Regions from separate parts of the Homo sapiens genome. Here region 2 is linked to region 1. The links come from fine-mapping of genetic effects on gene expression. A gene starts in region 1. The other region holds a variant in brackets. All regions are shown on one strand. Distances are from middle to middle.

Evidence for each region. PIP is the estimated chance that this variant, and not a neighbour inherited with it, causes the effect.
Region 2: its variant is fine-mapped to the expression of ARHGEF10 in whole blood (TOPMed, PIP above 0.99).

Annotation. Positions count from the first base shown.
Region 1 is chr8:1,816,830-1,832,225 of GRCh38, forward strand. ARHGEF10 (Rho guanine nucleotide exchange factor 10) reads left to right here and starts at 7,097. Exons shown (of 29, transcript NM_014629.4): 1 at 7,097-7,284. MIR596 (microRNA 596) reads left to right here and starts at 402; the gene lies at 402-478. RefSeq lists enhancers at 1-369, 11,965-12,881, 12,882-13,797.
Region 2 is chr8:1,842,982-1,858,377 of GRCh38, forward strand. ARHGEF10 (Rho guanine nucleotide exchange factor 10) reads left to right here. Exons shown (of 29, transcript NM_014629.4): 2 at 372-455; 3 at 14,979-15,134. The coding sequence starts at 419. Among named protein-coding and RNA genes, the nearest start is that of ARHGEF10, 27 kb to the left of the region's middle. RefSeq lists enhancers at 1-103, 202-1,077, 578-1,777. The variant A/AG (reference allele first, on the strand shown) is at 11,722.

The sequences.
Region 1 (15,396 bases):
ATGCACCGTCCTGCCGCCCACGCACTCGCGGCAGAGCCCAGGGCGGCCTGCGCAGCTTGCATAGGGCCCACGGGACGCCGCCCACGGGGAAAGCCGTCTGTAACCATCCGAGCCTAGATACTCCCTGTTTACCTGCAGACACACCCACCGCACGGCCCAGGAATACGGCCACTGCGGAAGTCAAGAGGAGACTGCTGCGTTCCCTTTGAAACAGCCCAGGGCGGCTCATCAAGGCTGCAGAAAACATTACAGCCCCACAGGCAGGGCTGCTCCGGCCTTCGTTTAGCAGCTTGATTGAGGCGTCATTGGCACACGGCGAACTGCGCGTCATTAACGTGGGCGGTTCAGTGAGTTCTGAGGAACGCATAGCAGGTGGATCCGTCGCCACAGTCGGGAAAGCGAGCACGGCCTCTCCGAAGCCTGCCCGGCTCCTCGGGAACCTGCCTCCCGCATGGCAGCTGCTGCCCTTCGGAGGCCGACCCGACCCATCCCTGGGTGCTGTCTAGGTCACTGTCCTTGTGTGTTTTTGTTTTACTTTAGAACTCTTATAAAGACACAAACCGATGAGTAGAGACAAACTCACACTAGGAAATGGACTGGGTGTGGTTTGCAAAGCGGGGAGCGCGGTCTGTGTCCGGAACCCTCTGAGCTCAGGCAGCGTCCTGGGCTGTTTCCTGGGGCAGCGGCCACAGCCGTCCTATCTGCAGAGCATCCTGCTTTCCTGGAGGGCATCTGCGATGGCCCCCAGGCTGTACTGTTCCCTGTAAGTCCCGAGCCCCCTGTGGGGACAGGCGCTGGGAGGGGTGTGGCCTGCTGGGGGCTCTCGGATGTGTTGCCCCAGGGAGCCCGGCCGGGTGATGCCTCGGGGTGACTGGGGACGGCAGGAGGGAGGGGAAGGCAGGGCGCGGAGCAGTGAGGTCGGCAGCTTCTTCCCAGCGCTCGTCGACACTCCAGCCTCTTCAGCCACGTCTGGGGTTGCGTGAGCCCAGACAGAACTCATGGCTCGAGGCTGGGAGGCTGAGAGGCCTGAAGGGGGCCTCTGATTTCCATGTACCCCCTGCACCCCATGTTCGTGTGGCCTCCGCACTTGCCCAGGGCCTCTGCCGTGTGACAGCCCCACCCCAGCCCCACGCTGCCCCAGGGTCTCCCTGGAGCGCCGTCTGTCCTCTGCCAGGCTGTACCTGGGTCCCGTGACTGAGCGGCACTGGGTGGAGACTCACTTCCTGGCTCTTCTCCCATCGCAGCACCTGAGCAGCCCCGTGACTGCGGCCTGAGGTCTGCCCCACGTGCGCTGTGGGCCAGGCAGAGCGCCAGGTGCACCCAGGATGCCTTCATCTTCACCGCCGCTCCAGAGCCAGGGACTGGTGACTAACCCTGTATCCACGAGATAGCAGGCTCAGTACGGTCAGGGACTTGTCTGAGGTCTCACATCCAGGGTTGTTCGCCGTCCCCGGGCTCAGTGTCTCGCTCCCCGCCTGCGGAGTGGAGTAGTTCTGAGATGTGTGCATGCCATCTCCCTTTCAATGGCGCCATCCTACAAGTGGCCTCAGCCAAGGTTCAGCCAGTAGGAGGCAGACCTGGAGAGATTTAGAGCCTGGATCCGGCACCACGATGGGGGCCTGGGAGCGAGGTCCAGGCAGGCAGGCCGTGGGAAGGGCAGGCTGGACCTGGGGCAGAGCTGAAGCTACCGCCCACAGCGGAATTTCTTCTCTGGAAAGCCTTTCCAGTGCTGAATCGGGCCCACCCGGATTGTCTAACATAGTCTTCCTCATTTAAAGTCCACTGTGATGGGTCTTTTGCACACCAACAGAACACCTCCACAGCCACATCTGGACCCATGTTGAATGAATTACCGGGGACTGTCACCTGGTCAAGGTGACATATAAAACTGACCCGCACAGTAGGTGCGAATGTCTTTCCAATTCTTTGCAGGAAACTGAGGCACAGCAATGCAGATAGCACAGCTGGTAAGGGAAGTGCCTGGGATGTGAACCCAGGAACTGTGCCCAGGAGTGGATACAAGCTTCCATCTTCGGACAGTGCCTCAGGCTCCCCCGAGATGTCCATGGGGTCAGGTGCCCTGACACCGGTCTCTGCACATGAAAGTGTTGAGTCTTCATGCTGCCTAAGTAGGTTTTGCTCTTGTTTTCAGTGAGGAGACTGAGGCCCAGGACATTGAATGACGCCCATGTTCATCCATATAGTGGTAAAAGAGGCAGAAGCCCCCGGGCCTATTTGATGATAGAGCCCAGGCCTTTAGGCCCTGCTAGAGCTGACCTCACGCACCCGCTCCGCGTGGGGCATGGAGACGTCTCTGGAGTAGAGGCGAGGCCTAGAACCAGGCAGGCTGTCTTTGCCATTTTTTTCCTTTCTGAATGTCCTAACTAGGGTATAGATTATCCCTACCCTCTGCATGGGCCTTGCACTTAATTTGCTTGCAATTAATTAAGGGATATTTTGTATTCCGTCAATAAAGGGAATCATTATTTTTTTAAAGGAACCCAGCTTTTAAAACCCCTTTTTGCTGATACATAACTTAATTTGTTCCTGCTACTGTAACAAAACACCAGAGACTGGGTCATTTATAGACAACAGGAGTTTATTTCTCACAGTTCTGGACGTGGGGAAGTCCAAGATCAACGTGCCAACAGGTTCAGTGTCTGGGGAGAGCCTGGTCTCTGCTCACAAGACAGCACCTTGAGCACTGTGCCCTCACTGGTAGGAGGGGTGAACAGCCCCCTGGCACTTCTACAAGGGCACTAAGCCCATCCCTCATGACCCACTAACCTCCTCAAGGCCCCACCTCTTACTGCTATCACGTTGGTGATGAACTTTCAGTCATCAAGGGGGATGCATTGAGGCCACTGTATATATCCCATGAAGTAGCTTACTCTTGTGTTCGGCTTGATTCTATTTACAAAGTGAACACACCCATGTGTCTGCAAATCAAATCAAGATGTAGTCACCGTTTTCATCACTCCCCAGAATTCCTTTGTCTTTTCTGAGACAATACCCCCAAAAATAACCACTGTTCTGATTCCTATTATTATAGGTTGGTTTGGCACATTCTTGAATTTCATAAAAATTGAATCATACTATATGTGCCCTTTTGTCTATGTTTTTCATGTTTTCAAGATTCATTGTTATTGAACATATCAGTTTCTTCCTTTTTATTACTGTATTATTAGTATTCTATTATTCTATGAAGATACAATACTTTATGAGTTCACCTGTTGATGGAATTTGGGTTGTTTCCAGTTGCGAAGTATTTGAACTGTTTTGAAGAAAGAATTCTTGTAAAAATCATTTTTTTTTTTTGAGACAGGGTCTTGCTCTGTCCACCCAGGCTAGAGTGCAGTGGTGGTGAACATGACTCATTACAGCCTTGACCTCCCAGCCTCAAGCGATCCTCCCACTTCAGCTTCCTAAGTAGCTGGGACTGGAGGTGGAGACTATCATGCTAGACTCCTGGGCTCAAGCAATCCTCCACCTTGGCCTCCTAAAGTGCTGGGGTTACAGGTGGGAGTCACCATGTCTGGCTGTAAAAGTCTTTTAAGGGACTTATGTTTTCACTTGCCTTGGGCAAACCTAAAAGTGGGATTGCTGAGAAATGGGCAAACAATTAATCAGAGTGGTTGCGCCATTTGCACTCTCATCGCCTTGTATAGTGGTTCCAGGGGCTCCACATTTTTACCCTTGCCATGTCGGTCTGCAGTTTCAGCCGTGCTTGGATGACGGTGGTGGCATCTCATTGTGAGTTTACTTTGGGTAACACTGAGCACTATTTCCTGTTCTTGTTGGCTATCAGTACATCTTTGGTGAAGTATTTACGTCTTTTGTTTATTTTTAAATAGACTTGTTATTGTTATTTACAGGCTTGTTATTGTTATATTGTTTTGTCCCTTTTGAAATAGACTTGTCTTGTTATTGTTCATTTGCAGGAGTTCTCTATTTACCAGGACTATGGTTTGAACGCGTTTTCCCCAAAGTTTATGTGTTGGAAACTTGACCCCCAATGCAGCAGTGTTGGAAGGTGCCTACTAGGTGGTGTCTGGGTCATGGGGGTATGACCCTCATGGATGGATAAATGCCATGACTGAGGCGGTGGGCTCCTTATAAAAGAATGAGTTTGGGTGAAACCTCGTCTCTACTAAAAATACAAAAATTAGCTGGGTGTGGTGGCACATACCTGTAATCCCAGCTACTCGGGAGGCTGAGGCAGAATAGCTTGAACCAGGGAGTCGGAGGTTGCAGTGAGCAGAGATCGCACCACTGCACTCCAGCCTGATGACAGAGCAAGACTCCGTCTCAAAAAAAAAAAAAAAAAAGATAAGTTTGGCCCATTTTGCATCCTCCCTCCCCACCTCCGCCTCCCACCTTCCGTCATGGGATGATGCAGCCCGAAGGTTCTTGCCAGATGTGGCTCCTTGATCTTGAACTTCCCAGCCTCCAGAACTGTGAGAAATAAATTTCTTTTCATTGTAAATCACCCATTCCCAGGTATTCTGTTACAGCAGCACAACGTGGATTAAGACAAGCCATTTGTGGGATATATGCATTGCCCCTGTGTTCTCCCAGTCTGTGGCTTGCCTTTTCATTTTCTTAATGATGTCATGAGATGAGTAGAAATATTAAATTTTGATAAGCCATTTAATCATTTTTAAATGGTCGGTCCATTTTCTGTCTTACCTGAAGATCCGTAAGATCTTTTCTTATATTTTATCCTAGCAACTTTATAATTTTTACACTTAAGTCTATGATCCATCTGAAATTCCTAAATTCTATTTTAATCCTAATAGTTTATTTGTAGATAATTTTGTTTTTTAACATATATAATCATATTGACTGTAAATAATCAGTTTTTCCTCCCTCAATCCTTACACTTTTTGTTTTTATGACCTACAACACTTGTTAGATGCTGCAGGACAATGCTGAATAGACTACGGAGAGTCAAAGATTTTCATACACCCTTATCAGTACAAGTAGATAAAAAGTACAAGTAGATAAAAAGTACAAGTAGATAAAAAAATCAGTAACAAATATGACCTAATTGACATCTGTAGAACTTTATGTCAGTGAAAGCATGTTCTCAGCAAGTGCTCATAGAACATTTACCAAAATAGACAATGTTGGGCCATGAAGCAAGTGTTTGAAAATCTTAAACGACAAAAATAAAACAGCTGATGTTTTAAGGCCCGGTGGAATTAAACTTTAGTTACAATAAAAAGAAAACCAGAAAGTCCCCATATATTTGAAAGGTGAACCTAACTTTTCTAAATATCCCATGGGTCAAAGAGGGAATCACAATGGAAAATCCCAACTCTTCCATATCCGGGCTTACGAAAATAGGGATGTATCTGTGAGGAACGCCTGAATAAAGCAGACAGACAGGATCTATTGGAGCTCCAAATCAGGGGATTTTCTGCCCAACCTGCCTGGAAGGCATTGCTCTGTGGCCCTACTCAGTGGTGTCCCTGGCGGCCCTGAGTTTAGGGGCTCAATTTCATCCATTGAGAAAATGAGTTGTTTATTCCATACACAGGACTATTTCCTCTTATCTCTACCTTTTTAGAAAACACTACAAGTATCAGGATTTTCTCATCGTATTTAGGTAAACAAGAACTAATTTAGTTGACCTTCTTACTTCTGTTGATCAAGACCATTGATCTGACCATTGATCTGTGCAGAAGATCTCTGAATAAGGTACCCAGAGAACCCTAGGAATAGAAACCTGAAATAAGTTTTCTAATCTTAAGGTCGCTGAGAGCAAATACCTTTTTCAATTGATTCATAAAAACAACTCAGTCTGATTTCATAAAATTAGCAAGTGTGAATAATAAACATTGAAAAAATATCACCTTACCTACGATTATTTTTTCCAGCCATTGTAGTCTTTCTATGTTGGCTATGATTTTTACATAGTCCAAAATTTTCAGGGAAATAACTTATTCCAGAGCACACAAGCCTTAAGGGCAGTTAATGTTTAGATTAATTTCGTGATACTTAGCATCCCAAATAGCTGTTTGTATTTCTTCTATAAAACAAGTGAAAGGGGCTAGAAATCTCTAAGAAGTCTGACAGTTCTAAAACACTGACTTAAAATTACTTCTATGATTCGGAGATTTGGGTAGGAGAAGGCATAGAAATAAATCTAGCATCTGCGAACACACTTGTTAAATGTGCTGACCAGGTAAAAGATAACATCCTTTAGTTATTTTGGTTAAAAATGTCTTTGTTTCTCGTTTTTTTTTTTCTTTAATAGTAATTATAACGATAATCTGTTTCCTTTTTAAAAGTATAAGACAAATAAATGCTCAAAGTAAACAATTCCAATAACTCAGAAGGGGCCATTCCCTGGAAAGGTCCCGGGAAAAACGAGCGCTTCCTGGCAAGAAGCAAGCTTCAAAAACTGCCTCGGAAACGTGGCTGAAGTCATCGCATTTCCAAACGCCCAAGCCTTGGCTGGTCCAGGGCAGCTGGCGCGGAAGACCCGGAACGCCCTGTGGGCAGGGCCAGCTGCGGACGGAGGGACGGGGGCTCAAGGGCGGGTCGGGTGGGGTCCCGACGCCCCCTCCTCGGCTGGGCGCACCCCGGGTGTCCGCAGGGAGGGGCGATGTTCTGGGGGGGGGAGCGTCTGCCCGACGCCCCCTCCCTCAGGTGAGCTCAGCCCGTGGGGGTCCGCAGAAAGGGCGGTGCTCTGGGAGAGGGTTAGGGTCTGCCCGGCGCACCCTCCCCAAGGGGCGCAGCTCTGAGCCGGGAGCAGGCTCTGCGGGGAGGATCCAGATGTTGGGGGCGGGGAGGGCACTCGGTCTGCCCAGCGACCCCTCCCGAAGTGAGCGCGGCCCGGGGTCCGCGGGGCAGGAGATGATCCGGGGGCGGGAGCCTCTGCCGCGCGCCCCCTCCCACGCGTGCGCAGCCTGGGCCGGGCGTTGGGCAGCGGGAGGGGGCGCGGGCGGCCACGTGGCCTCGAAGGAATGCGCGGGCGCGAGGGCAGGGCGCTGCCGAGAAACCGGCAGGCTCTGCGGCCAATGGGCGCCCGGAACGGTCTGGGCCCGCCAATGACAGCATGGTGGGTGGAGCAGGCCGTCCGGGCGGGAGGGGCTGGGCGCATCCCTGTAGCCGGCGGGCGCGCGATCCGGGACGGACGGGGTCGCGGGGGACGCGGGGGACGCGGGGGACGGCGGGGAACGGCGGGGGACGGCGGGGAACAGCGGGGGACGGCGGGGAACAGCGGGGGACGGCGGGGAACAGCAGGGGACTGCGGGTCGCGTCCTGGCCGCCGAGGTGAGTGCGGGCCCCGCGGACCGTGGGTCCCCTCGCGGGCTTCTGGTTTCCTTTGAGAGTTGCACTTCTGCCCGGCTCCCCCGAAATCGCTGGGTCCCACCCGGAGGTGGCTGCGCCCCCGACCCCCTGCGCAGATGTTTCAGGGAAGGGGCTGAGACCCCCTCCCCCCGAGCAGCTCCCCCTTCCGCGGCGCCCCCGGCCCCTCAGGATAACGGCGCGGGCCTGGGCGGGGGGAGCAGGGACTGGCAGCAGGGACCCCTGGCCCCAGGGGCAGGAGCGAACTCCGATCGGCGGAAGGAGCCCGAGGGGCGAGCTGGCTTCGCCTGGGGGGTCGTGCAGTAACTTAGATTTTCCGGTAAAGGAGAAGAATGCGGTCCGCCTCAGGATGCAGAGAAGGACCGGTGTAAGGAAAGCCGGCGTCTTTCCCCCGCACCCTACCTGTCCCCCTACCCCACCAGTTCCCCGCACCCCGTGTACCCCGCCTGTCCCTCAGCACCCCCTGTTCACTCTGCACTCCACCAGTTCCCCGCACCCCAGCTGTCCCCCCGCACCCCACCTGTTTACCCTGCACCCCAGCTGTCCCCCGCGCCGCAGCTGTCCCCCCCACACCCCACCTATTCCCCCGCACCCCGCCTGTCCCCCCGCACCCTACCTGTTTATTCTGCACCCCACCTGTCCCCTCGCACCCCACCTGTTCCCCCTGCACCCCACCTGTCTTCCCCACACCCCACCTGTTTACTCTGCACCCCAGCTGTCCCCCCACACCCCACCAGTTCCCCGCACCCCGTGTACCCCGCCTGTCCCTCAGCACCCCATGTTAACTCTGCACTCCACCAGTTCCCCGCACCCCACCTGTCCCCTCGCACCCCACCTGTCCTCCCCACACCCCACCTGTTTACTCTGCACCCCAGCTGTCCCCCCACACCCCACCTGTTCACCCGCACTCCACCTGTCCCCCCGCACTCCACCTGTCCCCCCGCACCCCACCTGTCCCCCCTGCACCTCACCTGTCCCCCCGCACCCCACCTGTCCCCCCGCACCCCACCTGTCCCCCCGCACTCCACCTGTCCCCCCGCACCCCACCTGTCCCCCCGCACCCCACCTGTCCCCCCGCACCCCACCTGTCCCCCGCACCCCACCTGTTCACCTGCACCCCACCTGTCCCCCCGCACCCCACCTGTCTCCCCGTACCCCACCTGTTCCCCCGCACCCCACCTGTCCTCGCACCCCACCTCTCTCCCTGAACCCCACCTGTCCCCTGCACCTCAACTGTCCTGCACCCCACCTGTCCCCCTGATCCCCACCTGTCCTCTGCACCTCACCTGTCCCCCTACACCTCACCTGTTTACCCTGCACCCCAGCTGTCCCTCGCACCCCAGCTGTCCCCCCCGTACTCCACCTGTTCCCCTGCACCCCACAGCCCGCTGGTGCCCAAGAAGCCAAGGTAGATTCTGAGGAAACTGCCCTAGGTCCACAGACGCCCTGCCCACCTGTCCCAGCCCCACTCCCCTTCCATGGGCCCCTGGGCACTGAAGGTGAGGTCTGAGTACCCCTCCCGACTGTGGCCAGTAGGTCATGTTCCCAGGCAGCAGTAGACGAACTTGCTGTTGTCTGATATTGATTCCAGTCACTAACTTTGGCTGCAAGTAAAAATTCTCATTGACTCAAGATGTAACGGGTTTTAATTCTTTTCTCTGGTTAACCATAACCTGAGTACGGACTGGTCAGTATTCTAGATTCTGTGCAGGAGTGACTTAATGTCCATATGGGTGGAATGCTGCAAGGAGGAACAATTTCACTGTTGCTGATTAATAATATGTTTTGAACACCTGCTTTATAGAAAATAATTTTTATTCGAAAAGAGAGATGATTACTGAGGTTTACACGTCATGTATTTTTAAAAACACACTTTGTCCCTGTCTGTCTCTCACAGCATTTATTTGCTGGCTTTAGCAGCCAACATCGGCAGTTACGGATGCATAACTCTTTATAGACAGATGAGACCTCCAGGATTTCTCAGCAGTAAGAAAAGTCATTTGTATAAGGTGCTATTTGTAATTCATTAGTTGTAGACAGTTGGGGGTGAAGTGAAGTTAAAAGTTATTCAGAATAGCTTTTTATGTTTTTAAAAGTTGATGCTTGACTTCCAGATGTAACCACATTTGTCTTCTGGGTGCTTTGGTGTGCTGCCTTTCCTCTGCAGTTTGTGTGTGCATACGTGTGCGTGTGTCTTTGTGTATGTGTTTGTGTTTGTATGCATGTGTGTGCGTTTGTGTGTGCGTGTGTTTGTGTGTGTGCTGTGTGTGTGTGCGCTTTGTGTGTGTGTGTGTGCGCGTGTGTGAGTTGTAGATAGAGGCGTTGGGTGGTGTGGAGGGTGTGGAGTTACAGACCTGGGTTGAGGTGGGGAAGCTTTTCCCTGGCCCTGTGAGTCCAGACTTCTCACGGGACTTGAGGGTGCTCACTTACGAAGTTGCTAGAAGGCGTTGTATGGGGAAGTGCTGCTTAAAACAAAGATGTTTGGCATAAATTAGAGCAAACTGGAAATGCGCTAATGACGGTTGTATTCTGTAAGCGATGTGAAAACGTCATAGTGAGATGTAAGAAAGCGCTGTTGTAGGCCCGTCATTGTTTACTGCACAGTGTGTGGCAGGAAGCATGCAAAGAACAGCTCGGATCTGGAGATGCTCAGAGAATCTGTGTTTCATGCGTGCGTTGCTTATAGTTTGCCTGGGTAGAAAGGTAAGTGGCGTGAAATAAGACAGAAGGGAAGCGTAGCTGTTAGTCATTCATGAGGGAGAACTTCAGCTCTCTCCCTTAACCAGGCTTTCTGGGAGTGTAATTTTGGAAGGTTCTGGGAGCTCTGCAGTGGAAAGGGGTGGGCCAGGCCCAGGGGCTGCCAAGGGTCTGAGAGGCAGGGAGAGCAGAGGCCGGTGACCAGCAGGGGTCCTTGCCTGGGTGGCAGACAGGGCCACAGCCCCAGGTCCGTCTAGGGAGGGGCAGGGTTACCTGTAAGGACAGGTGTGGCAAAGGGGCCCAGGGAGAATGCCCTGCCACCAGCCCCCACGCTGATACACACACACTTCTGCCACATCTGCCACCCTACTCTGCTTCAGCCTGTTCATAGTTGTCAGGTTTGGACATTGGTTTTGGTTCTGTTTGTTTGTTTTCTGTGAGTAGTTTTCCAAATTTTGATAAAAAAGTGATCTTTTTTTTTGAAATGGAGTATCACTCTGTTGCCCAGGCTGGAGTGCAGTGGAGAGATTCGGCTTGCTGCAGTCTTTGCTTCCCAGGTTCAAGCAATTCTCCTGCCTCTGCCTCCCAAGTAGCTGGGATTATAAGCACCCACCACCGTGCCCGGCTAATTTTTGTATTTTTAGTAGACGGGTTTTGCCATGTTGGCCAGGCTGGTCTTGAACTCCCGACCTCAAGTGATCCACCTGCCTCAGCCTCCCAAAGCGCTGGGATTACAGGCGTGAGCCACTGCATGCCCCGTCAAAATGATCATTTTAAATCGTGGATTTTTCCTTTCCTTCCATCATTGCCATTTCCTGCTTTTTGTTGTATCATTAGAGTAAAGCAGGCCTGCCAGTAGAAAGTGCTATATGGGGGTTGTTGGTATTTTATATTTTTGTTAAATGATGTGAAAAAGGTGTAAAATATTTTTAAAAATGTTTGGGTTCAAAGTTTTTCTCTTCCATGGGTCACTTCTGATAGGGGAAATAACTGTGTAAAGTAAAATATGGTATCCAGAGCTGTGACTGGTGCGGGGGCCCTTGTGAGGGAGCGATGGGGAAGCATGCAGGTTGTTAACAGGCACATGTAGAGATGCATGGCTGTCTGCGTAGAATAGGCCTGGCTGCATCAGCATTGGCTAGTTACCAATCTGGCCATTCTAGGTTCCAATATCTTAATGACCGTCAGTCCCTGGGGACTCACAGTGGGGGTTTAATGAAGAAAACAGAAGGAATGGTTGTGGTACCTCAACACTCTGCCTCCACTGATAGCTACAGACAGCCGAGGCCCTTTTCGGCACCAGGTGAGTCGGGGTGAGTCAGGCTCCTGCAAGTCGTAGGTGTTGCTTCCGTGCTGAGATCACGTTCTTTGTTTTGTTTTGTGCCCGTGGCTTGTTGTCCAGCTGTGGGGAACAGACCCTTACACTTGGATGTGGTCGTTATTATGTTGTGGAAGAGCAGTGCCTTCCTCTTAAAGTGCCTTCCTCCCTTAAAACCGTGGCATGCACACTTAACGGTTTTAAGGAATTACATTTTGATAAACCGTGGCATGCACACTTACTGTTTTAAGGAATTACATTTTGATAAACCGTGGCATGCACACTTACTGTTTTAAGGAATTACATTTTGATAAACCGTGGCATGCACACTTACGGTTTTAAGGAATTACATTTTGATAAACCGTGGCATGCACACTTACTGTTTTAAGGAATTACATTTTGATAAACTGTGGCATGCACACTTCCTGTTTTAAGGAATTACATTTTGATAAACCGTGGCATGCACACTTAACGGTTTTAAGGAATTACATTTTGATAAACCGTGGCATGCACACTTACTGTTTTAAGGAATTACATTTTGATAAACCGTGGCGTGCACACTTAACGGTTTTAAGGAATTACATTTTGATAAACCGTGGCATGCACACTTACTGTTTTAAGGAATTACATTTTGATAAACCGTGGCATGCACACTTACGGTTTTAAGGAATTACATTTTGATAAACTGTGGCATGCGCACTTACTGTTTTATTCTATCGTTTGCTTATTTTTTTTTTCTGAAAGGAAAATAAAGCAGTGATTTCAGTGCAGTGTCTGATTTTCTGTAAGGAACATGAGAAAAGTGAGTCCAAAGAGCATTACATAAGCTAGCGTGGTATTCAGTGCGTATCTGAGCGGACACGGACGGGGAGTCCTCGAGCTTTGGAGAGGAAGCAGGCGGCAGGGCCTCCAGCACACCTGGGGGGCGGCCAACCAGCCCGGCCAGGCCGAGCGCTCCCCGCCTGCACAGTTGCACTCATGTCGGGCCTGAGCTGAGTCGTCCCGACAGGATACCTGCGTGGGCCGTGTAGACACAACCCAGGGAGCTCCAGAGTTAATGACCCTCCTGGTTCAGAAGCTCCGTATGTTTTGTGTGAGAAGCGCTGAGCTGTGACGGAGGGAATGCGGTGGGTCTTCCTGATGGTGCGTGCAGTTCTGAGCCTGGCGGGGTCAGCGGCATGGAACCAGTGGGACGTGGTAAGGCCAGGCCTGTGGGCGGTTGCCCTGTGTGGGCCGGGCCAGCTTGAAGTCCGCTGAGGGCTGGAGCCAGCCCCTGACCCTGGCCAGCCTGCTTGCTGCAGGAGTGATAAGAAAGTCGACTCATGCTTTGTTCTCAAGCACTTGACTCAGCAGGCCCGTGGGAAGCAGCCCACACGAGAGGCCCTGACCCACGTCCAGCTGCCTCCACGGAAGCCGCGGCTTCGTGGCTTTCTGTCGTTTGTGTGGGCTCTGCATTCAGCCAGCAGAGGCACTTCTTGCAGAGCAGGGCTGAGGAGAATTCCTTTCTCTGGAAGCTGTGGTCCTGTGTTATGTAGAATAGGTCACTTTTCAGCTGCAGCTGGAGTCTAAACGAGCGTCATAGGTGCCCAGCGCTGCACGGCGGCGCAGCGCTGCATTCGTGGTCCCGAATCCGGGGTCTGCGGAGGAAGAACGCGCGGCGAGGCCCGGGGAGGCTGCTGGGACGGCGGCAGGCACCCTGCTCCTGGAATGGCGTTTAGACATGCAGGTTTCTCCATGATTTAATAGGAAGGAATGAAAGGTGCAGCGTTTTGCCAGCTGATGAAAATATCTGGGGAGCGAGTCATAGGTAGCGGTAGCAAGAAGGAGAGGGTTAGGTTCTCCAGTGTGCAGGCTCCGAAGTGCTCTCTGCCAGCCGTCAGAGGGCTGCAGTTTGGAGGCAGCTCCCGCTTGCTCTAAAGAGCCACTTCCCCGCTCCGTTCTGTCTGCAGACGGCCCCAGAGGGCAAGGACTCCTGGTGACAAGAGGAGTATCAGACGAAGGCAGGGGAGGGAGGCTGTGTGCGCGCACCTGTAATCCTGGGAGATTTCCACTGCAATCCGCAGGCATGCGTGGCAGGCGGCTCATTTCCCGTGGGGCTCAGGCGGCTCATTTCCCGTGGGGCCCAGGCGGCTGTCCTTGGTGGGCGCTTGACTCCTGGGCGTGGCTTCTGTCCAGCATCCAGGCTGCCAGGAGCCTCCGGGGGCCGTGCAAACACCTGCGAGCACCTTCTTGGTCCCTTGAGGCCTTTCTCTGTTGGCTTAGGTTTAGTGCCCTTTTGTGCTTATGTGTTTTTTGAATCAAGTTTTTATACTTGATTTAACTTCTATAAAAAGAAACAACCTTTGCACATGAAGAAAATCTACCTGTGGCCATATGACAAGCACCGGCAAATCTGGAAATGACCTATTAAGAGACAGGTGTTTCATGAATACCGCTGCGTGCTAAGTACTAAGTGCTCTCACGCCCCAAGGCAGGGTGTGAACCGCAGAGACCATGTGCTTGCCCTGGGGGGCTGGCACCCTTGTCTTCAGGAAAGATGATTTAAGAAGTAAAGTAATATGATGAAAAGCTGCGGAAAGAGAAGGCATACACGGGGCTACAAGGTGGAGAAATAAGGCATACACGGGGCTACAAGGTGCGGAGAGGAGGGATTTGAAATTGAATAGGAGCCATGGCAGGCGAGGCGCCAAGAGAATGGGGTCATTGCCTGAAATGCCACTGGAGCCGAGAGATGAGCTGAGCCCACGTCCACAGAAGCCCATTCCCAGTGGGAGGAACAGCGTCTGCGCGGCCCTGAGGTGGTGCACCCAGCATGTCCAGGAACAGCAGGTCGGCCAGGGCTGGAGGGCCGAAGGCAAGAGGGGACTGGTGAATGCCAGGGCAGCGGGGGAACTGCATGGGAAGAAGCCTTGGAGGCTCTGTGTGTCAGAGCGGCTGGAAGGGCCACGGGCCAGACCCATGGAGGGACAGTGTGGGAGAGCCACGGAGGGGCCATGTGACAGAGAGCTGTAGCAGACAGGGTGATGGACATCCATGGAGGGACAGTGTGTGGCAGCCGTGGAGGGACAGTGTGACATCCGTGGAGGGACAGTGGCAGCCGTGGAGGGACAGTGTGACGGCTGTGGAGGGACAGTGTGACATCCATGGAGGGACAGTGGCAGCCATAGAGGGACAGTGTGACGGCCATGGAGGGACAGTGTGACATCCATGGAGGGACAGTGGCAGCCGTGGAGGGACAGTGTGTGATGGCTGTGGAGAGACAGTGTGACATCTGTGGAGGGACAGTGTGACGGCCGTGGAGGGACAGTGTGACATCCGTGGAGGGACAGTGTGACGGCCGTGGAGGGACAGTGTGACATCCGTGGAGGGACAGTGTGACGGCCGTGGAGGGACAGTGTGACATCCGTGGAGGGACAGTGTGACGGCCGTGGAGGGACAGTGGCAGCCGTGGAGGGGCCGTGCACAGTGAGTGGTGAGCGAGTTGGGACGCGAAGGCTGCTCTGTGCTGCTGGGATTGCTGGTGTCAGCGCCCACTGCAGAGTCCTGTGCTGCGGCTCATGTACTGCTGTGCGGGTCGTGCACTGCTCGCTCCTGGACACCTGCACAGGGTGCTCCTGATGGAGTCACTTTTCAGTGTGTTGACTTTCACGTCGATGACAGGCAGCTTTTTCTCATTCTCACCATGGGATCCTATGGGGCTGTGGCCCTGGGTCAGGAGTGCCCTGGAGGGTGGCACATGGCCGGGTGGAGTTGGATGGGCTCCCTTCCCGCAGCTGCCTGTGGAAACCAGCACGTTGGCAGGAGGGGAGGGTGGTGCCCGAGCCTGTGGGTGTGGCCGCTGGGGACTGGGTGTGGGGACAGGAGTCTGTGGAATGCGGTGCTTCCTCCTGACTGTGGGGCTGGAGGAGCAGCGGTGGGTCGAGGGTGGTTTAGTCCACCCAGGGGGTCCTGTGGCCCCGCTCTGCTGGTGCCTGTCGAAGGGGCAGCTGCAGTCGAATCACCACGCTGCTCCAAGGGAGTCTCCCAAGGGCTCCAAGGGATGGAGCGTCCGTAGATGCCCG
Region 2 (15,396 bases), 26 kb after region 1:
TGGAAGAAACCCATTTGGTTTACATGTTGACTTCTCCCTTTAGAATACAGTGGGAAATTCAGCAAGGAGTTAAAGCCAGTGTCATTTTGGGAGGGCCTGGCTGGCGAATCCAATTTGCAAAATAAACTTCTGGCTACATTTCAAGGTGAAGTCACTCCAACACTGAGAAGTCTCTTTTGTTTTGCTCTTGAATGTTGTTTCAAGGGAGATTTACAAGTATTCATGACTAATAGGTGGTGAGTCTTCTAATTATGGCTAGTAATGACAGTTAGCTCTTCCTTTTTGCGGGGTTCTCTGTCGACAGCCCTACACCTATTGAGTGCATGTTTATCCACCTGAACGGTGACAAGCAGTGTCTCTCCTTCTTGCAGGAGCTCCTTCCCTTAACAGAGCTGAGAGAGGCATCTGGAGCTGCAGCATGGACCAGCGAGAGCCCCTGCCTCCCGCTCCTGCAGGTAACAGCACTCAGTAGGTGGGCCTGTGGGTCAGGTTGTGCTGCTGCTCTCATCAAGGACGGGGTACTTCTGGAACCACTGAATTGCTGGTCACTGGGGTATGGGGTGGAGTGAGAGCTTCTTGGGAGAAAGAGAAGGTTCTGACGTGAGCCTGGGTGCCCCCATCCTTGCCTTGCCACGGGGGCATCCTGGGTGAGCCTCTTGCGTTCCTCACAGGTGCTGCTGTATTGCTCTTGGGGACCTATGGTCAGCATCTGAAATTCCCTTAAGATTCCCCTTAGCCTGATGCAATCGGAGATGGAGCGGGAGGGTTGTTACAGAATGGCGCCTTCCAGTGTTGAAGGCCTCGCTCAGGCTTAAAGCTCAGCTCGCCCATGGCGGGTGCTCGCCCAGTTTCCTTTTCTGCCTCCCTCCTCTGAGCGGCCGCTCAGGGACAAGCACGCCCTCTCTATCCATATGCTCCAATAAGGGAGGGCCTGCTGATGAAAGATTTATCTTCATTGTCACCTCACCTGAGTTAAATTGTTGCCAAAAAGACTATGCCAGGGTTGCCAGCTCGCGCTCCGGCCAGTGGAGAAGGTGGACACTGACCGACGTTTCCATGGCAGGTCGTCTGCAGGGCCTGGAGACCTGGCCTAGGTCCTCCCGGGGCCTGCCGGACCACATGTTGCACATGGGCCTGGTGTCCGTTGCAGGTCTGGGGGGTGATGGAGCTGTGGAGGTCACGGAATTAACTGTGTGGGCTCCAGGCCCCTTGGCACTGTGGGTGTGGGTCTTGGGAGATGCTGGGATTTGGTCGTCTGTGCCCCCCAACTACGTGGACACTCTGGGCCCTCAGAGATTGTAGCTGGATCAGAAAAGAGGCAGCCTGGAAGTCAGGCTGTTCATAAGCAAGTCAGTCACCGGGGCCTGGTAGATGACAAAGACAGGAGAATCCAGGGGTCACCGGGGCCTGGTAGATGACAGAGACGGGAGAATCCAGGGGTCACCGGGGCCTGCTGGACGACAGAGACGGGAGAATCCAGGGGTGAGCAGTGGCCACCCCAGAAACAGCCAGCGACACCACAGGGGCCAGAAGGGATGCCCACTCCTGCTGCCGGGGGTCTGCGGTGGGGAACCAGGCCTGGAAGTCCAGCTCCTGGAGTTCTCCGGAGCCGCAAGACCACGGGGTACGGGACCCGGTACCGGAAACCCGAGGCCACAGCTCCACTGCTTCTCTTCTGGGGGTGACGTCGGCCGGTCTCCTTGCCTTTTTGTCGCCATGGTGCTCGTTGTCGCCACAGTTCACTTACGTGTGGATTGCTGGCATTCAGGCTCTGCCAGACTAGGTTGTTTTAATTGAAAATGAGGTCGGGCACCTCAGCTCACACCTGTAATGCCAGCACTTTGGGAGACTGAGGTGAGTGAATCACTTGAGCCCAGGAGTTTGAGACCAGCCTGGGCAACGTAGTGAGACCCCATATCTGCAAAAAGAATAATAATGTAATAATAATTAGTTGTAATAGTTGTAATAATTAGACCCCATCTCTGCAAAAATAATGATATGATAATAATTAGTTATGCATGATGGTGCATGCCTGTAGTCCCAGCTACTCATGAGGCTGGGGTGGGAGGTTCACTTGAGCACGGGAAGTTGAGGCTGCAGTGAGCCGAGATCCTTCCACTGAACTCCAGCCTGGGTGGTGGGACTGAGACCCTGTCTAAAAAATAAAGGTGGAACATGAGGCAGAGAGCAAAATCTTTTACTGCTTTTCATTCCTATCAAATGAGATGATGCCCCAGCAGAGCAGGGCAGTGGGCGTCATCCTGTGGCCTTACCCTCCACGGGCCCACTTTGGGCGGCTGTCCCTCCAGGGGCCCCCTCCCGCCTCCCTGCTTTCTTTTTGGCATTTCTTGGAAATGAGTGGTTGTCTTGGATAGTTTTCTGTTTGAAGGGGTGAGCACCAGAGCTTGCGTGCTTTTCTGTTGCCTCCCCTCCTTCCCACACACATGTAAGATGGCACACCATTAATATGGTGCCTTGACATGCTGAGGAGGCGGGTACAGTTGTTGGGGAAAGTTAAAAATGAAAGAAAGGCCAGGAAGCTGTCTCTGCAGGTAAGCGTGGAGGACGTAGGACCCGTTCAGAATCCCGTGGCAGATGGATGCTGCCTTTCACCCTGTTTTGCCCTCTGTTTCAAAGAAGGCGGAAACACCGTTTTCTCATTAAATTTATCTCCAGCATTTGCTGACGTCGTCATCAGTCCTGGCTAGTGCCTGGCACCCTGAGGAGCTCTGCCCAGCGGTACCACCACCTGGATTGCATGAAATGCCCATCCACCCATGGTCTCCACGACCAGAACTGGCTTCTGAAGAAGGTTCCTGGGCCCATAGGACTCCACTTTGTGTGTAGTTGTGCTAATCAGAGATGTGGCCTCTGATGGAGGCAGGACTGGGGGTGCCCAGGGTTCCCTGCAGCAGGACACTCCTCTGCTGGGGCTGGGGGTGTCTCCATAGCCCCTCCCTCTGCCCAGATTTCGACCCAGGGGAGAGTATGACAGGTCCACGCCCTCTGGGTGCAGCTGGACTGGCCAGGCCGTCCTTGGGCCAAGGCTACTGGATCCAGCCTCAGGGCTGGTCACTAGCTCCAGGCTGCAGGAATGTGGAGCTCTCCACAGTTCGCCACTGTTAACATTTCACCCAGGAGGGTGTCCTCGGGAGACCCTGGCGGGAGCCCGGGAGCCGCGGAGGGGCTGAGGAGCCGCCCAGCCCTCTGGCGGGTTGGGAGCGAGGCCCCTGCCCTTGCTGACAGGCCACATGACCTTGGTCTTTGATACAGAAAGCCACCATTTAATGACAGTGCTCTGGCTTGGAAACTTAGGTGAGTTTCTAGCCAATAACTTTTACGACAAATAGAAATAGGGATAATGGCCTGGTGTCTTTTCTGAGGATTCTGTGGTACTTTAATTATAATTTCCCCCATTATTAAGTCAACCGTCCACTTAAAAGTGCCCCTGAAGATCAGGATCCAGCAGGAAGTTACTGCGACCTCATTTCTTCCCTGCGTGGGGACACAGTTGGTGCTGTTACTTTAGATCATCACTTTTCTGGTTTTTTTCCCCATATTTCTTTTCTACATAATTGTAGTCATTGAATATAAATTTTTAACTTTTTTTTTTTGAGACGGAGTCTCGCTCTCTCACCCAGGCTGGAGTGAAGTGGTGTGATCTTGGCTCACTGCAACCTCCACTTCCCGGGTTCAAGGATTCTCCTGCCTCAGTCTCCTGAGTAGCTGGGATTATAGACACCTGCCACCATGCCCAGCTAATTTTTGTATTTTTAGTAGAGACAGGGTTTCACCGTGTTGGCCAGGCTGGTCTCGAACTCCTGACCTCAAGTGATCTGCCCACGTTGGCCTCCGAAAGTGATGGGATGACAGGCGTGAGCCACCACATGTGGCCTGATTTTTAACATTTTGAGTGTAGGTTTTTATACCGCGTTAACATTTGTGTTTGTGAGTATTTTCAGGCTGCTGCTCGTTTTTCGTAAGTGTCCTCCTCAGTGGCTGCTCTTGGGGCCTCCTGGCAGGGGTGCTGTTGTGTGTTCCAGTGGAATCATTCTTTAGTCCATGCCCATTCCTCACCTTTACCAGGTCCCTGTGCCTTCTCTAGAAATGTCTTTGGCAACACGTCAGGTCATCACAAGGGGAAGTGGTGTTGGAGAGGCAGCCTGTGCACCAGGAAAGATTTCAGGCTCTGCTGCCCAGCTGCTGGGGTTCAAATGTTGACCCTGAGGTGTGTGAGCTGATGACCTAAGCAGCCTTCAATTTCTGTCATTCCTGGAAAAAACAGAACCCCTCTCATAAGTTTGGGGAGGATTTGACAAGTTAGCATTTATGAAGTACTTAGACCTAGCTGGTAAGCACTCAGCAAATCCATTCAGAAGATGATCTGGGATTTCTCAGAATGCAAAACAAGTCACACTGCCAGCTAAAGCCTTTCTCTAATTAGTAGCAAAATTCCAATGCAAATTACATTAGGGCAAAAGAAATAAGTACAATTGGCATGTTAATGTTGGTTCACAAAAAATCATTTACCAAATACCTGGTAACTTCCATAATGAGCTCAGACAGACGCCAGCACTCACACTGGCATCGTCTCTGGGGGCAGCTTTGTTTCTGGGGGCAGCATTGTTTCTGGGGGATGGCACTGTTTCTGGGGAGGCCTCCTTCAGCACAAGCAGCTACAAACCGCAGTGACACCCAGAGCCAAGAAGTGGTTATGAATAGCCTCTTGTGGCTGAAGCTGTTTGCAGCCTGGTGCTTTTTAAAGGACTTTTCTTTAAACAATAGAGCTAAAACACAAACAGCCTTCATTCAAAATAAGAGAAAATCATATCCCGAGTTAAACCTTCATATGAGAATCAAACATGCTCTTCCAAGCCCCAGGAAAAGTAACACTTAGCTTTTATCTCTGATCTTAAAAAATGAGTATTACTTTAATCTTGTTCTCAGTGTGTTAATCGTTGCATGTCTTTAAAAGTTCTTCATGGACTTGGAACAGTCAGAGCGCTGTCTGCTCACGAGGGAAGGTGGCCCGGGAATGGGTGGCCTGCTTCTCCAGGGCTGGCGGCCAGTTCTCTCCCACTCAGGGTGCTGGGACCAGAGCCACCAGGTCTTGGTAGCTTGTAGAATAAATATTTCGCTAAAGAAAACAGAAAATTGAAGTGTTCTATGCGTCTTCTTTTGCATCGTGCATATTGTATTTGTCGTCCTCTCTTCAGTATCTCTGTAAAAAGAGGTACGCGGGGTCCTCCGTCTTAGTCCTCAGGTTAAGTGGCTTTGTACGCGCCACACGGCGTTTCCTACTTGTTGCAACATGCCCCAGGGAGGGATTCTTTCCATTCTGTGATTCCTTTCTATAGACGAGGGATGGGGTCTCGTGGCCAGCAAGCAAAGTTTGAACTCAGCTCTCCGACTCCAGAAGCCGTTCTCTAATCCACGACTCTGTACTTAGCATTTCTTGTGTAGATTTGTCCGGGGGCTTCAGAATAACACAGCAGGATGGGAGATGTGCTGCGCAGCGATGGGTGTGTCGTGGTTTCTGTTTGTTGTTTATTCAGTGAATGTTGTATTCACTATTAAATGTATTCACTATGTAAATGTAGGGAAGCTACATTTCAGGTACTACAAATGACTTTACAGTTTATAATCTAAATTGGGTAATTAAAAAAATTACAATGCATGTTAATTGTAGAATAAAAACTAAAATATAGACAAGTCACGAAAAAGAAAATACTTCACCTCTGGGAGATTAGTACTGTTAAAATTTTATTGAATATTCTTCCAGTGTTTTAGAAGTAGTCTTTTTTTTTCCCCTTGAAGCAAACTTTTAAATGCCGTTAATATAAGTGATAGTATCTGCATGGTTATGTTTCAAACATTAGCAGTTTTTTTCCCTGACAAACCTAGGCAGCACTTGTTTTTATATGTATAGTTTATTTAAAGTGAGAGATTAAGTTTTTTTATTTATGGCTTTATTAAGATATAATTCATATCTTAGTACCGTTTACCTATTTAACTTGTAAAGCTCCGTGGCTTTTACTGTATTCACAAGCATGTAGGACCATCACACAGTCAGTGCTGGTCACCCCTAGACACCGCTCCCCACCCCGGGCAGAGGGTAACTAAATTTTAAACTAAACTTAGATACTTTATTTGTACCCTTTTGCTCATTAAGAAAAGAGCACTTAAAACTAACTTCAAATTAGAATAGCCAAAATCCAGAACACAGATGGTAAATGCTGAGAAGGGTGTGGGGCGGCTGCGGGGACACAGACGGCAAATGCTGAGAAGGGCGTAGGGCGGCCGTGTGGACACAGCAAATGCCGAGGAGGGCATGGGGCAGCCACGTGGACACAGACAGCAAATGCCGAGGAGGGCATGGGGCGGCCACGTGGACACAGAAGGCAAATGCCGAGGAGGGCGTGGGCCGGCCGCGTGGACACAGAGGGCAAATGCTGAGGAGGGCGTGGGGCGGCCACATGGACACAGACAGCAAATGCTGAGGGGGGCGTGGGGCAGCCACGTGGACACAGGGCAAATGCTGAGGAGGGCGTGGGGCGGCCACGTGGGCATGGACAGCAAATGCTGAGGAGGGCGTGGGGCCAGCTGCGTGGACACAGACGGCAAATGCTGAGGAGGGCGTGGGGCAGTCGTGTGGACACAGACGGCAAATGCTGAGGAGGGCGTGGGGTGGCCACGTGGGCATGGATGGCAAATGCTGAGGAGGGCATGGGGTGGCCACGTGGTCACAGACAGCAAATGCTGAGGAGGGCGTGGGGCGGCCACGTGGACATAGAGGGCAAATGCTGAGGAGGGCGTGGGCCGGCTGCGTGGACACAGGGCAAATGCTGAGGAGGGCTTGGGCGGCCACGTGGACACAGACAGCAAATGCTGAGGAGGGCGTGGGGCGACCATGTGGACACAGAGGGCAAATGCTGAGGAGGGCGTGGGCCGGCTGCGTGGACACAGAGGGCAAATGCTGAGGAGGGCGTGGGCCGGCTGCATGGACACAGAGGGCAAATGCTGAGGAGGGCGTGGGCCGGCTGCATGGACACAGAGGGCAAATGCTGAGGAGGGCGTGGGCCGGCTGCGTGGACACAGAGGGCAAATGCTGAGGAGGGCGTGGGCCGGCTGCATGGACACAGAGGGCAAATGCTGAGGAGGGTGTGGGGCGGCCACGTGGACACAGAGGGCAAATGCTGAGGAGGGCGTGGGGCGGCCACATGGGCATGGATGGCAAATGCTAAGGAGGGCGTGGGGCAGTCGCGTGGACACAGACGGCAAATGCTGAGGAGGGTGTGGGGCGGCCGCGTGGGCATGGACGGCAAATGCTGAGGAGGGCGTGGGGCAACCGTGTGGACAGACGGCAAATGCCGAGGAGGGTGTGGGGCGGCCGCGTGGGCATGGACGGCAAATGCTGAGGAGGGTGTGGGGCAACCGCGTGGACACAGACGGCAAATGCTGAGGAGGGTGTGGGGCAACCGCGTGGGCATGGACGGCAAGTGCGGAAGACGGCATGGGCCACCCGCGTGGACACAGATGGCAAATGCTGAGGAGGGCGTGGGGCAGCTGCGTGGACACAGACGGCAAATGCTGAGGAGGGCCGGGTGCTGGCGGGTGGCTAGAGGGCGTGGGGCAGCCGCGTGGGAGGGCAGTTTGGTGGCTTCTTCAAACCTGAGCACACTCTTACCGTGTGACTTGCAGCCATGCCCCGGCGTATTTATTTAAATGAGTTGAAAACTTAATGTCCACTCAATACCTGCCCATATAGGTGTTGATAGCAGCTTTATTCATAATTGCCAGAACCCAGAAGCAGCCATGATGTCCTTCAGGAGGTGAATGGATGGATAAACTGGGGCCCATTCAGACAGTGGAACATTCAGTGCTAGGAAGAAATGAGCTGCCAAGCCGTGAAAAGACATGGAGGAGCCTTAAATGCATCTTACTGAGCGAGAGAAGCCAACCTGAAAAGGCTGCGCCCGGTGCGATTCCAACCACGTGACATTCTAGAAAACAAAATTATACAGTAACAAGCTCAGGGTTGCTAGGGGTTTGCGGGGGGGAGGGGTGACAGGCGGAGCACGGGATTTTTAGGGCCACGAAATTCCTTGATAATGGTGCATCCATGTCATTACACGCCTGTCCAAACCCATAGAAGGCACAGCACCAGGAGCGAGGCCTCACGCACACCGTGGGCTTTAGTTAGCGACGTACCTCAACATCATTACACGCCTGTCCAAACCCATAGAAGGCACAGCACCAGGAGCGAGGCCTCACGCACACCGTGGGCTTTAGTTAGCGACGTACCTCAGTGTTGGCTCCTCACACAGAAGGCACAGCACCAGGAGCGAGGCCTCACGCACACCGTGGGCTTTAGTTAGTGACATACCTCATTGTTGGCTCCTCACACAGAAGGCACAGCACCAGGAGCGAGGCCTAACACACACCGTGGGCTTTAGTTAGTGACGTACCTCAGTGTTGGCTTCTCAGTTGCAACAAGTGTTCCACTCTGGCAAAGGATGGGGGATAGTGTTGGGGGAGGCTCTCTTTGGGGGTGGGGAGTATATGAGAACTCTCTGTACCTTCCTCTCAATTTTCCTGTGAACCTAAAACTGCTCTAAAAAGTTGTATCTCTTAAAAGCAACCAAACTGGGGTGGGCACGTTGGCTCTTGCCTGTAATCCCAGCACTTTGGGAGGCCGAGGCAGGAGGATCACTTGAGTTCAGGAGTTTGAGACCAGCCTGGGCAACATAGTGCCACCTCGTCTCTATTAAAAATAATAAAACTTAGCCAGGCGTGGTGGCTCATGCCTGTAGTCCTGGCTGCTTGGGAGGCTGAGGTGGGAGGATTGCTTGAGCCCAGGAGGTCAAGGCTGCAGTAAGCTGCGATCGCAATACTGCACTCCAGCGCGGGCAACAGAGCATGACTCTGTCTCAAAAAAAAAAAAAATTAATAACCAAATGGAAATGAATCTCTGCTGCAGACCATATGAAGACAGACACAAGCAGAGGGGCCCTGTGGGTGTGGGGACGGCTCTCAGGCTCAGACAGGCCGTTAGCCGTCTTGATAGCTCGAGATTCAGGCCTGCGAGGTCCACTAGGCTCAGGTGTCTACAAAACTTAGAATTGATAAGAATTAAATAACAACAACAACTGAGGCTCTTGGTCACACTGGCCACCCCAAGTGCAATAGCCATGTGTGACTTGAGCTGTCCTGCGGGCCCTCTAGAACCTCTCCATCATCCTGGAGAGGACCGGGGAGCAGCACCGTTTCTGTCCTGAGGGCCCTCTAGAACCTCTCCATCATCCTGGAGAGGACCGGGGAGCAGCACCGTTTCTGTCCTGAGGGCCCTCTAGAACCTCTCCATCATCCTGGAGAGGACCGGGGAGCAGCACCGTTTCTGTCCTGAGGGCCCTCTAGAACCTCTCCATCATCCTGGAGAGGACCGGGGAGCAGCACCGTTTCTGTCCTGAGGGCCCTCTAGAACCTCTCCATCATCCTGGAGAGGACCGGGGAGCAGCACCGTTTCTGTCCTGAGGGCCCTCTAGAACCTCTCCATCATCCTGGAGAGAACCCGGGAGCAGCACCTTTTCTAGCAGCAGCATTTCGAAGATTGGATTGTCAGGTAACTTCCTCGCCCTTTTTTGCATATAGGCATAACTTAAAATGGGCATGGTCATATTATGTCATAATGATTGGAAACGTAATGTTTCTTAAAGTTTTCTATTTCATAACTTGTTTTAGAAATGTGTGCCTTAATTGATGAGCCAATTACCTGCATACTCACAAGTGTAAAAAGTCAGGTTGGTAAGAAGTCAGTGCCACCAAGGCAGCCCCAATGGCCCTGCTGTGACGGAAACAGTCTGAATCCTGAGGCTTAAATGGCTGCTGCTGTCGGTCAGCATTAGGGGTGTCGTGTCAAGCTGCCGGTGACCCACAAGGGCTGGCCCCTGAATGCAGCAGAGCCTGCAGTTTTCCTGGGAAGTGCAGCTGTGGCCAGAGGGCAGCCTGTCCTGGGCAGGCCAGAGGAGAGGGGCAGGGGAAGAATGGTCCCCAGGTTAGATTTGGGCCGGGCGCTGGCGGGTGGTTAGATTTGGGCCGGGCACTGGCGGGTGGTTAGATTTGGGCTGGATGCCTGTGGGTCGGCACGGGCTGCACTGCCGTCTGTGTTTCCTCCTCCGTGTCATGGCCTTCATGGGTGACTCTCAGAACCTGCCGTCCTGAGTGGGCAGGAGGGGCACAGAGCCTCTCCCTAGGTGCAGCCCTGCCCAGGCCGCCCTTCCCTGCTTCCCTGCCAGCTGCCTACCCAGAGCGCCGGGCCCTTCCCGCCCACCTCCTGGGCTCCACAGGGACCAACGGGCGGAGAACACTGGGCCATGGTGTGTCCAGCGAATGACGGCTACACTGCAGATTCCCCAACAGCTTTTTGAAAGATCCATGTCGTCTCAAACTACAACACGTTGTATCTCCTGAGATGCTTTCAGCAGCCCTTGAGCATCTTTTCTAGTTTGCAAATTGTAGTTTTTCTCATCAGTGTTCTCCTTCAGCTGAATGGCTGGGTTCTGAAGCTGGGGTTTTGAGAAGCGGGAATTCCTTCTGTGGCTGCAGCAGGAGTGTTGTGGGAACCGACCCAGCCCAGCTTGCCTGGCTCCCGCCAGGGCCCTGAGGATGGCACAGGACCTTTTGTGTTGGAAAGGGCTTGGCCGAGCTTGCGGGGGAGCCTCCTGGGTTGCAGGCCGGAAGTCCCAGGTCAGGGTGCTGGCAGGCTGTGTGTGCTCCCCGGGAATGTAGGTCACAGCCTTCCTTGCCTCTTCCAGCGCCCGCCGGCTGTGGGCACTCCCGGGAGTTCCTGCAGCTGCACTGCCAGGTGGCTCCTCGTCCCTGTGCTGGCCTCTGCTGTCATGAGGACACTGCCACACTGGGTTAGCCGAGCCTGCTCTAGCACAGCCTCCTGTAAACCAATTGCACCTGCAGTCACCTGTTTGCAGACGAGCTCACCAGCAGACTGGGGGTGAGGATTTCAGCACAGGGATTTAGGGGACACAATTGAACCTGTCAGGGCTGGTGTCAGAACTAAACTTAGGACCCCAAATGCTGGGATTTTTAAAGGCATTCTGCATTGCACTTCACTAAGGGACCTGGGGAGCTCGGGTGGGGTCTGTGATGCCCAGGATCCCCCAGGGCCCAGGGCAGTGTCTGGGATGGACATGCTCAGCACACACCACCTTGAACGCCCGGCCCCATGCTCACCTCAGAGGGCGGCGCAGCCTCACCATCGATGGAGGCCCCCTTGGAGGTGGGGGTCAGAGGAGCAGCCCAGCTCCAGGCGGCCTCGCCCTCTGTCCTGGGCGCCCGCCGTGGGCACAGCTGTGGGCACCCATGCAGGCAGGGGTGCAGCCTCAGGTGGTTACATTGAGCACAACTTCTTTGAGTTCTTGTAGAAAGGCTATTTTTTTCTTACTGGAACTGAATTCTGAGAGGAATTTGTAACACACATCATTCTGCAGAGTCTATATAACTTGAAAGTCTTTCCCTGCAGTGTTTGCAGAGGATGGAGGGCAGCTCCGCCAGTGTCTGCCAGTCTTTCAATGACAGCAGAGAGCTCTTGAATTCCAAGCCCCAAGCCCCTTCCAAGCCCCTCCAAGTCTAAACTAACAAGATTTAAACTTTTGGAGGAATTTCTTGATTGCTTTGATTTCCCTTGTATAGTAGAATTCTACTTAA[A/AG]TTTTACTAGGGGAAAAAGTGAGTTATTTTGGCAAAAAACAGTTTGAAGCTTGCTCATCTGCTCGTCATTCTCTCATTCATTCGCTCACATGATGTGCGTGTCACACATTGCCGCCAACCAGGTTTCCCACTGCACCTTGCTGGGCGGTGAGCAGAGGTGCCGGCTCCGAGAACGCATGCGGTTCTTCTCAGGGTCATACCTGTACCTGGCACACGGGACATGCACTGTCCCAGGTAATCCCACCGGTCTCCCGGGGCTGGTGTCACAGCCCAGGAGGTGGCGTATGGGGAGGGAGTGGAGGGGCCTCGGTGTCTCCTCAGGGCTGTTTCCTGCACACACGGGCTCCTGTTCACGGCCTTCCTTCCTGAAGACTTTAAAGAGAATTCCTTCTTCCTGTATGGGGTACAGTGTGGGTTCCGGTCCCAACAGCTCATGTTTCTCCCCTTGCAGATATTTGAGAGCCTATTTTGTACCAGACATTGTCAAGCTTTTTTAAAAAACAATATTTATAGACTCATGTCTAGGTGTATTTTATCTAATTGTTTGAGTTCAGCGGTAGTAAACTATAATTTCCAAAAAAGAGAGTTGACAATATAAAAATCTAGTGTGATTGTGTCACCGTCTGGATGAATCTGAACATGTGCCTGGCAGTGACTTTTTTTGGGGTGGTCAGAACAGAAACTTTTTTTGGGGTGGGGGACAAGGTGTTGCTCTGTCCCCCAGGCTGCAGTGCGGTGGCGCAATCTCAGCTCACTGCAACTTCCGCTTACTGGGTTCAGGTGATCCTCCCACCTCAGCCTTCGGAGTAGGTGGGACCACAGGTCCACGCCTTCACCCCAGGCTAATTTTTGTACCTTTTTTTTTTTTTAAGAGACGGGGTTTCACTATGTTGTCCAGGCTGGTCTCAAATTCCTGGGCTCAAGCAATTAGTCCTCCTTGGCCTTTGAAAGTGCTGGGATTACACGTGTGAGCCCCTGCGCCCAGCAATACATAAACATTTTCACTGATCATTTTCGTCACGGCATTTAGTCGGCATTGTTTCCGCAGCACGTTTATTTGGCAAACATGATTTTTTCTCCCCAAACGTGAATTCTGTGGAAATGACAGTTGCATTTGGAAAATATTCCAGAAAACAGTTTTTTTGTTTGTTTAACTTTTTACTTTAAAAGGTATTCACCAGTTCATTTCCATAAACTGACTACTTAATGATATGGCAAAAAAAAAAACCCCTTCTGAAATAGGTTTTGTTTACGGTCGCTTGGGAGACAGTGAGGACTGGTTTGAAAGTACATAGTTAACAAGGCTCAAACTCTGGAAATTAGCGGTTCTGTCCATTCCAGCTCTCCCCCTGCTTCGATTGTTTCATTTGATTAGGCTTAAATTCAAAACTTTGAATTTAGAGAAGTCTTTGACCCTCTAGGAAGTGGGTGAGGCTTTGGTATCTGGGCAGAGCAGAGTTCACCATCCAGAAGGACAGCAACACACACTCCTATCAGACGTATGTTTTAAAAATAACACATTTCTGAATCCTTTTTCTTGATTCAATTTTAGTATTTGTCATTCTCATACTTGTAAAACTCGTGAGTGTTGGTGGAAGCAGTTCCAGAAAGCTCGTGGGGTCCCCAGGTGTCATGGTCAGCTGGGGGTCTCATCCCCACCGTCCTTGCAGTGGTAGCTGGATCCAGTTCACGCTGTCGTGGGCCTGGGCCCCTCTGTGTATTTGTGGTGACCTAAAAATCTGTTTCCTTCAAAAGGCACTCCTAGAATGTATGACTAGTTTAGGAGATTCAAAGGAAAATGAAACACCTCAAATTTAAAGGTTGTTTTTAGACCGCTAGAGTTCCCCGGGAGGCGACTTCCCCAGGAGGCTCGGCAGAGAGCGCCTGGAGACTGCGTGGAGTGTAAGTGGGTTGTGTGTCTGTGGGTTGCTCCCTAGCAGGGCTCCCCCTCAGCCCCCTCCGGAGCTGCCTGCAGCCGAGCTGGGCCGTCCTGCTTGGGTGCATCTCCCTGGCCCACGGGGGATTGTCTGTGTTGGAGGGGCTTGGTTTGGGCTGACCCAGGCTCTGTCCCGAGGTGCCACCTGCTTCTGTGGATTGCCGGGCATGGCAGCAGGAGGTTTCCTCAGGAACGTGTGCTGGGAAGAAATCCCAGCCCTTGGGAAAGGCTGGCAGGGGCTGGGTTCCTCTCGCTCCTGGGTGTGCCGGGTGGTGTTGTCCCAGCACATGGGTCTCCTCTGGAAAAAGGAGAAGCACCTGTCTGCTCTGATGGTGGCACACAGTCCTAGCACGCCGTCTCTGCAAATGATGCACACGGCAGGCTGCGCCATCAGCCGTAACCCCGGTCCAAGGAGACCTGTGACTCGCCTCCTGCAAAATGTTTCTTATCAAGCACTTACTTGGAACAGTTATTAACCATGCTCTTTAATAATTATGGAGGTTTGTATTTTAAGCTATATATCGGTGTTCATATTTGACACTGATTTTCTAACCATCAGAGATATTTAATTAAAATTGTAAATAAGAGAGGCAAAATGAAAATAAAAGGAGAAGAATTCTAGGGAGAGATGCAAGGTGTCAGAAGTTATTTCTAAAAGTAAAGTGGATGATACTGAATTCTCTTCCAGACCATCAGCCCAGCCGGGTGATGTTCATCTGCTGGGTGCACAGATTTAAAATGTGAAAAGCTCTTTTTTCCCCTTACTTTCTCTTGTTTTCTTTTCTTTTTTTTTTTTTTTGAGACAGAGTTTTGCCCTGTCACCCAGGCTGGAGTGCAATGGTGCAATCTCGGTTCACTGCAACCTCCGCCTCTCGGGTTCAAGCCATTCTCCTGCCCCACCTTCCTGAGAAGCTGGGATTACAGGTGCCCGCCAACACGCCTGGCTAATTTTTTTATTTTTAGTAGAGATGGGGTTTCACCATGTTGGCCAGGCTGGTCTCAAGCTTCTTACCTTGTGATCTGCCCACCTTGGCCTCCCAAAGTGCTGGGATTACAGATGTGAGCTACCACCCCCAGCCTCTTGTTTCTTCTCTGTGAGTTGTAGATCCTATTAAAAGAAAATAAAAACCAGTGACTCAGAATTCTAATGATACTTATTTTGCCCCTTAAAAAGGTTAACTACAAGCGCAGTACAGCACAGAGGAACTTAGTCAGTGTCTCTGGCTAACATAGATCGATCGATCTATCTATCTATCTATCTATCTATCTATCTATCTATCTATCTATCTCTCCTTGATGTGGTTTTGGTTTTTCTTTTTAGAAAATGAAATGAAATATGATACCAATAATAATGAAGAGGAAGAGGGAGAACAGTTCGATTTTGACAGTGGAGATGAAATCCCAGAAGCGGACAGACAGGCCCCATCCGCCCCTGAGACAGGAGGTGCTGGAGCCAGTGAAGCCCCTGCACCCACAGGTGAGTTTCCAGGAGGGTCCCCAGGTGAGTCCCCAGGTGGGTCCCCAGGTGAGTCCCCAGGTGGGTCCCCATGTGAGTCACCAGGTGAGTTCCCAGGTGAGTCCCCAGGTGAGTCCCCAGGTGGGTCCCCAGGTGAGTCCCCTGGGGGGTTCCCAGGTGAGTCCGCAGATCACCGGCATCAGGGTCACCTGTGCTCAGCCATCGGACTCGCCGATTTTCTCCCCATTCTTACGGCCCAATTGGAACATTGTAGGGAAAGGAT